Linked DNA regions of Homo sapiens. The protein of the gene in region 1 purifies or fractionates together with the protein of each later gene. This does not show direct contact. Each region holds a gene or a part of one and is shown in the gene's direction. Other genes may lie near its edges.

The links.
Region 2: the proteins of TLDC2 (region 1) and GLDC purify together in Homo sapiens (affinity purification with mass spectrometry; one large-scale study listed by BioGRID and IntAct). This does not show direct contact.

What each region holds. Positions count from the first base shown.
Region 1 is NC_000020.11:36,874,667-36,878,937, forward strand, and holds the start of TLDC2 (TLD domain-containing protein 2), read left to right. Parts: upstream 1-1,471; 5' UTR 1,472-1,508; coding exon 1,509-1,541; intron 1,542-3,232; coding exon 3,233-3,388; intron 3,389-4,271.
Region 2 is NC_000009.12:6,639,230-6,642,729, reverse strand, and holds part of GLDC (glycine dehydrogenase (decarboxylating), mitochondrial precursor), read left to right. Parts: intron 1-3,065; exon of another isoform or gene 3,066-3,500. UniProt on the Homo sapiens protein: The glycine cleavage system catalyzes the degradation of glycine.

The sequences.
Region 1 (4,271 bases):
GGTCAGGAGTTCGAGACCAGCCTGACCAACATAGAGAAACTCCATCTCTACCAAAAATACAAAATTAGCTGGGTGGAGGCTGAGGCAAAAGAATCACTGGAACCCGGGAGGCAGAGGTTGCGGTGAGCCCAGATCACGCCACTGCACCCCAGCCTGGGCAATAAGAGTGAAACTCCATCTCAAAAAACAAAACAAAACAAAACACCTTTTAAAATCTATTCTTTTTTTTTTTACTGAACATTAACAAAAGTTTATTTATGTTTCAATTTAGAAATTCATATGTTCCATAGTGAAACCCCGTCTCTACTAAAAATACAAGAAATTAGCCAGGCGTGGTGGTGGGTGCCTGTAGTCCCAGCTACTTGGGAGGCTGAGGCAGGGGAATGGCGTGAACTCGGGAGGCAGAGCTTGCAGTGAGCCAAGATCATGCCACTGCAGTCCAGCCTGGGCGACAGAGTGAGACTCTGACTCAAAAAAAAAAAAAAAAAAAGAAATTCATCTGTTCCCCCCACCCCCATCTGAAACTAAATATGGAAAAAGAAACAAAGACTTAATAAAGAAACTTTCTGTTAAATGACAAGCAAAGCAATGATGAAAGCCTAAAATACATCTGTGTTTAGGATGCAAAGTAAAAATAGCTTTTTTTTTTTTTTTTTTTGAGACAAGGCCTCACTCTTGCCCAGGCTGGAGTGCAGTGGCATGATCTCGGCTCACTGCAGCTTCCTCCTCTCAGGCTCAGGTGATCCTCCCACCTCAGTCTTCCGAGTAGCTGGGATTAAGGCGCACGACACCATGCCCAGCTAATTTTTATATTTTTTGTAGAGACAGGGTTTCACCATGTTGCCTAGGCTGGTCTCAAATTCCTGGACTCAAGTGATACGGCTCCCTCAGCCTCCCAAAGTGCTGGGCTTACCGGCATGAGCCACTGCACTGGGCCAGATTGTTCTTTCAGTCTAGGCATGCCCCCTTCTAGCTTCTGTTCTAACACACTCATCGGCTTGGAGAGGGAAGTGAATGGCAGACTGTCAGTCCCGCGAAGTCTTCTGAGATTATCTGGTTCAACATGTTACATGTTGTGTGTGGTGAAACTGAGGCTCAGGAGTGCAAATGGGCTTATCCAAGGTCATACGGGGAACTAGAGGCCCCAGACCTCCAGCCTGGGCCTTAGGCATCTGGCCAATGGCCCACAGTCCCAAGGCCAGGCTGCCAGAAGGACAAGGAGGTAGAAAGGAATTGCAACCAGAATCTATGGTGTATGGTTAATACGTGTTACATGCTAACTGCAATGAGGTCTTGAATGCCGAGTTGCTCACAGACTCACCCAGCAGCAGCTCGGCCTGGAGTGACAGGTGAGAGGGAGCAAAGGGCAGCTGGCGTGGGCATGGAGCTGGCTGGGTGTGCCCCAGGCCTCTCCCTCTCATCTCTAGGCCTCACCTATCAGCGCTTCCTTCCTGGGCAGGGCTGAGGATTCACTCACTGCCCACGGCCGGCTGAGCAGGGACAGGAGAATGAGAGGCCTCCGCTGGCGTTACACTCGGCTGGTAAGGGTTCCAACTCCGTCTGTGGTGCAGGTTGGGAGGTGAAAGGAGGTGAGGTCTCTGGCAGGGTGGGGCCTGGGCTAGGGTTGGATGCGGGCAGTGACTTGTTCCCCTCTCAAGTCCCTCCCTGGCAGGCCTGTGGTTTGGAGCAAGGACTGACTCAGGAACATGGGGTCTTAACACCCCTGCTCCAAGGTTCTCAAGGGGGACAGACCGATGTCTCTGTCCCTTCCTCCCTGGAGTGGGTGCTGGATGGAGCTCTGTTCAGAGCCACACACAGCTAGACCTGCCTCAGGCCTGAGCCTGGAGAACAGAGCGGGGCAGGAGAGGGGGTCCTGTCCATCTCTCAGCCCTTGAGAGGTCTCTTCTTCCTGGGAAAAGCCTGCAAGGTCATTGTGTGGAGGCACACACATACACATACATATAACATATACACACTCACACGCATACACATGCAAACACACACACTCACACACTCAAACACACTCAAATGCACTCATACACACTCAAATGCACTCACACACTCAAACACACATACAGACACACACACATTCAAACACACACACTCACACACACACTCTGGTACAGAGTGGAAGCTCGGATGAATGAATGAGTGAATAATGATGCCCCTTATGGATGTAGATATTTACACCATCACAACTCACACAAACACATTGATATATAAACACAAATTTACACTCAATACCTCCACACATTGATGTGCCTACACAACTCTATTCCAAGCCAACACACAATTCGCACAGACAAACACATTTTACATGAACCTACATGTATGATCCCACATATGACTGCATGCATCATTTCACGGGCTTCATGGGGAAACCTTTGGGCTTCATTTTCTTCCTTTGGAAAATGCTGATAAGAAGAAATACACAGAAGGCCAGGCGCGGTGGCTCACGCCTGTAATCCCAGCACTTTGGGAGGCCAGGTGGATCATCTGAGGTCAGGAGTTCGAGACCAGCCTGGCCAACAGGAGGAACCCGTGTCTCTACTAAAAATACAAAAATTAGCCAGGCATGGTGGTGGGCACCTGTCATCCCAGCTATTTGGGAGGCTGAGACAAGAGAATTGCTTTAACCTGGGAGCCAGAGGTCGCAGTGAGCTGACATTGCACCTCTGAACTCCAGCCTGGGTGACAGAGCAAGACCCTGTCTCAAAAAAAAAAAAAAAAGGAAAAAGAAAAAAGAAGAAGAAACACACAGAGATCACAGACAGTGCACACTGAACACAGGCCTGGGCAAGGATGGGTTTTTTGTTGTTATTATTTAATGTACAAACACACACAATTGAAGCTCCCAGGGCTATGCCACCACCTGCCTTCCCCTCTGCTCCCAAGCTTAGAACTTGATCCCTGCCACCCACCCAGGACCATGGCAAACAGACCGACAAGTCGCACGGCCCACGGCCCCATCTGAGCCTTGTGGGGTGCTGGCGGGGGTGGGGGGACTGTGCTCCAGCCCTCAGCTGGCAGGGGCCAGGGAGGAAGCAGGCTGGCGGCAGGGGCAGCGTCCTGTCTGTCGTGGAAACCCCCAACTACCCTGGGCTGGGCTGGGGGTTACAGGCACATGGGCAGGGAGTGATGAGGTGGCCCGAGGAGGCTCTTGGGCTCAGGAGATGGTAGAAGCTGGGACCTCCTGTCCCTGGACACACCAGGCCACTTTGTGTTTTTGCAGCCCAGCCAGGTGGAGGACACCCTGTCTGGGGAGGAGGGTAACGAAGAGGAAGAGGAGGAGGAGGCAGCTCCAGACCCAGCTGCTGCTCCTGAGGATCCCACGGTGCCCCAGCTGACAGAAGCCAGCCAGGTTTTGAGTGCCTCAGAGATTCGGCAGGTCTGGGCATTGCCCATGGCACAAGAATTTCAGCCCTAAACCTAAGAGTCTCACCCTCCTGCCCTACACCAGCCACGCCCAGGGGCACCTAGAGTCACTCTTGCTCTGTTCTCATCATGCGTTACCTCCGGCAAATTGCTTCTTCTCTCGGGGCTTTGCTTTCCCTTCTTGTAAAATCATCCAGTGTTGCTAGCACCTCCCTCTACACTGGGCCAGGAGGTTAAGGAGGTAAAGAAAGAGGCTAGGACGGGCGCGGTGGCTCACGCCTGTAATCCCAGCACTTTGGGAGGCGAAGGCAGGGGGATCGCTTGAGGCCAGGAGCTGGAGACGAGCCTGGCCAACATGGCAAAACCCTGTCTCTACTAAAAATACAAAAATTAGCCGGGTGTGGTGGTGTGCACCTGTAGTCTCAGCTACTCGGGAGGCTGAGGCACAAGATTTGCTTGAACCCAGCAGGCGGAGGTTGCAGTGAGCTGAGATTGTGTCACTCTGCTCCAGCCTGGGTGACAGAGTGAGACTCTGTCTCAAAAGAAAAAAAGGAAAGAAACTAATTCCTACCTAGAACCAGCCCTTGGGAACTGAGGCCAAAGCTGGAGAGGGGTGGGCGGATGAGACGGAGGATCAGGAGGAGGGTTCAGCATCTTTCCTATTCTCTAGCCTCTGGGGGCAAGGGTGACCAAGCAGAAAGAGTCCTGAGAGTCCTGACCTGGGTTCAAATCCTGTCTCTACCATTCACTACCCATGCGAGCTTTGGGCTAGTTGTTCCACCCTCCCTGGGCCTCAGTTTCCTCATCTATAAGATGGGAATAACAACCCCTATCTCCGAGGGCTATGGCTGATGGCATGAAAGTCCCTAGAAACAGCAAACTGCTCTATCGCCTGT
Region 2 (3,500 bases), on another chromosome or scaffold:
AAATAAAGTGTTCTTTTCAGAGCATTAGAGCCTGGGAAACATGGCAAAGTTGTGTATCCTTTTTTAGTTTAGTTCTTGGTTCCAGCTGAATAATTTGAACATTAAGGGATTCTGATTCTTCACTGTGGAAGTGGGCTCCTGAAAAGTAATTTGCAACTTGAATATAAACTTAATTTTTTTATTTTTTATTTTTATTTTTGAAATGGATTCTTGTTCTGTTGCCCAGGCTGGAGTGCAGTGGCATGATCTCTACTCACTACAACCTCTGCCTCCCCGGTTCAAGCCATTCTCCTGCCTCAGCCTCCTGAGTAGCTGGGATTACAGACGTGCACCACCATGCCCGGCTAATTTTTTGTATTTTTAGTAGAGATGGGGTTTCTCCATGTTGGCCAGGCTGGTCTTGAACTCCTGACCTCAGGTGATCCACCCACCTTGGCCTCCCAAAATGCTGGGATTACAGGCATGAGCCACCATGCCCATGCCATATAAATTTTAAACCTAGCAGCTTCTGTGACATTTTGAGCTTGTTCCATCTAGTTTGGGATGATTCACGCAGAAAATATTGCACAATCAGAAGTCCCCCCATTCCCTGAAATGGACCAGTTCTCCAACAAAGCTTGTTTCTTGGAATAGTGAGCTGGGGGTGTTGGGAGAGTGGAGGAGGATGCATCTGCAAAGGATGAATTTTGACTCTGAGGTGTGCACGTGTCATGGTGAATGAATATTCTCCAGGTGGGGAGAGCAAATTGGTGCATGTAAGCTCTGGTAGTAGCATTTCCATTTAATAGTGGAGCACCATTACTCAAACTTGGCTTCATGTGAATGCCTGTGTTCTAGTGTAGTCAGAAAGGAATTCTGGATTAAATATTTATTTGCCATGTACAGAGAAAACTGTAGTGAGAGCTAGTTATAGGAGTGTTAAATGTCTTCATTGCAGAGTAAAGATTGTGATCAGTTTGGAAATACTTGGGTTACTTATTACACATAACTCAGTAATCTCAGACATTTATGTAGTGCTTACCATGTACTGGACACTCTTTAACGTGCTTTCATGTATTAATGTATATTACAACCCTATGAGGAAAATACCATTAATACTTCTGTTTTAAAAATGAAGAAACCGTGATATTCAGATGATGCATGACTTGCCCAAGGTCATAGCTGGTAAGTGATGGAGGCAGAATTCAAACCCAGGCAGCCCAGCTCCACTGTCCACACTCCATCCACTACTTTGCTCTCTCTTCATTTTGTCCTTTGCAAGGTCGTGGGTGTACAAAGTGGAAAACTTCTGTCCTGACTCACCTGGAATATCCAGTTTACAGATGTGCACAAACCCAGTTGCACTAGAATCACCCTGCCATATGCCAACTGCCCCAGTGGAAACGCAGCAGCTTCCTGGCAGCACAGACGTGGGAACACTCAAGCCTGCTGCTAGGGCAAGGGAAGGGGTCACGGAAGTGCAATACTGAAGAATGAGCAGTGATGCTCTGCTAGATAAATCTGGGGGAGGCTGCTGGAGGTAGTGGGATTAACATGTATAGGACAGAATGGCCGGACAGAACCAGGGGAGGACGGGTGGTTCATCAGTCACTAAGGATGCTCCCCCTCTTCTTGGACAATTCAGAAAGTGCCTTGACAAAATACTTTGATCATGAACTGGCTGCTAAGTAAGTCATTATTCAGAGAAACAAGCAAAGCTATTCAGTTCAAAATCCTGTCCTGCTCAAGTGAATCCTGCATTCCCCATCCACACGCACTCAACAACAACAAAAGGACTAGAAGGATATGTGTCACTGGCAACACTGATTTCTCTGAATGGTGCCCTTATTAGTGGTTTTAGCTTTCCTTTAATTACTTTGCAGTTTTGGAATTTTCTGCAGTGTAGGTATTCATTTTATAATTAATTCAAAGTTAAAAATTACTTTATGACCAAAGCCAGTTACTTTTAGCTATGGTATGCCTCGCTGTGTAGTCTTTTCAGTGAATTCATCTCAAGGCAACTAGACTGAACTAGACTGAACTAATCATAGATAAACTGCAGGGATTAAAGTTTACACAAAATTGCACATTGCTTGTGGAAGAGAGAGGAGAAACTAAACCCTCCAATGTTCACATTATTCAACTAGAACTGAGGAGATGAGTTGTCAGAATGATGGACTTGTGCCAGCTGAATGTTCCAGAGTGATTTCTACTAAATGGTTAATGGAGGGCAGTGAGCGGAGGGAGGGAGCATTGTGTAATGCAGCTGCAGGTGTTGGCTTTGTCACCCTAGTTGGGTTGCGCACTCTCCTGAACTGACCCCAGGGGCAACTAGGCCGTGGCAGCTGTTCCCCAGGCCGAGGCCACGACTTGTCTTTAGCCAGATGATGCCCATTGCCAGGTCCTGCCTGTAGGCCCCGCAGTCTGTGACAAGGCTTTCCTTTGGCCATTCCCGACTCATTCAATTCCCAGCTTATAGGAATTATTATTTCTTCTTTAGGATGATTCCAATAAATTTCCATTAAATGACTGTAACAGTAAAGATTAGCTAAATGAGAGAAACAAAGGCTGTAATGAGCTTGCTGTAGCAAGGGAGTCAGACTTGCATATTGGCAGAGGAGAGGAAAGCTTTATTGTGGAAAAAAGGGAAGCCTTTAGGTGTGTTCTGATTGGAGGTTGTTTACAAGGGAAGCTGTCTGAGGATTTACTAGAAGTCGGGCAACTGATGTGATTGGTTATGGGTACATGTTTGGCTTAGCCTGGTTGGTCCTATGTTGGAAGTGGGACAAAAATTAGGGAAGCTATCAGTTATTAATCGAGTTCTGGCCATTTGGGGCCAATTGTTAGGGAAGTTGTTGTTCGGTTTCCTGGATTGTCACTAGAGATAGCAATCTGGCTTTCTCTGTAAGTCTAACTTGTAGCAGGCTGGCTTCCTTGATTGTTTATTCTAAGTAAGCGGGTTAGTTTCCTGGACAGGTGTGGGTGAAAGTTCTATTTTTAAATATGGTCTGGTAATTGTCTATTTGTATATGTAGTCCCTCACAGCAGAATCTGTTTTGTCCATATATATATATATATATACTTTTTTTTTATGGTGAAAAGATATATATATATTTAGAATTAGGCAGCTGGACTCAGTTTAGATGATCCCAATTTTGTTGGCAACATCCAAAGCATCATAATCAGGAGCCAGTCGAACATATACCTTCTTCTCTCCATCAGGCCGAATCAGGGTGTTGCCCTTGGCCACATCATTGTCATAGAGCTTCTTCACAGCCTGTTTAATCTGGTGCTTGTTGACTTTAACATCCACAATGAACACAAGTGTGTTGTTGTCTTCCATCTTCTTCATGGCGACTCAGTGGTCAGCGTAAACTTGATGATAGCATAGTGGTCAAGCTTGTTTCTCCTGGGGGCGCTCTTCCGAGGATATTTGGGCTGTCTCTGGAGTCGCAGGGTCTTGGACCGCCGGAAGGTGGGTGATGTGCGGATCTTCTTTTTTTTTGTGGCTGTGGACACCT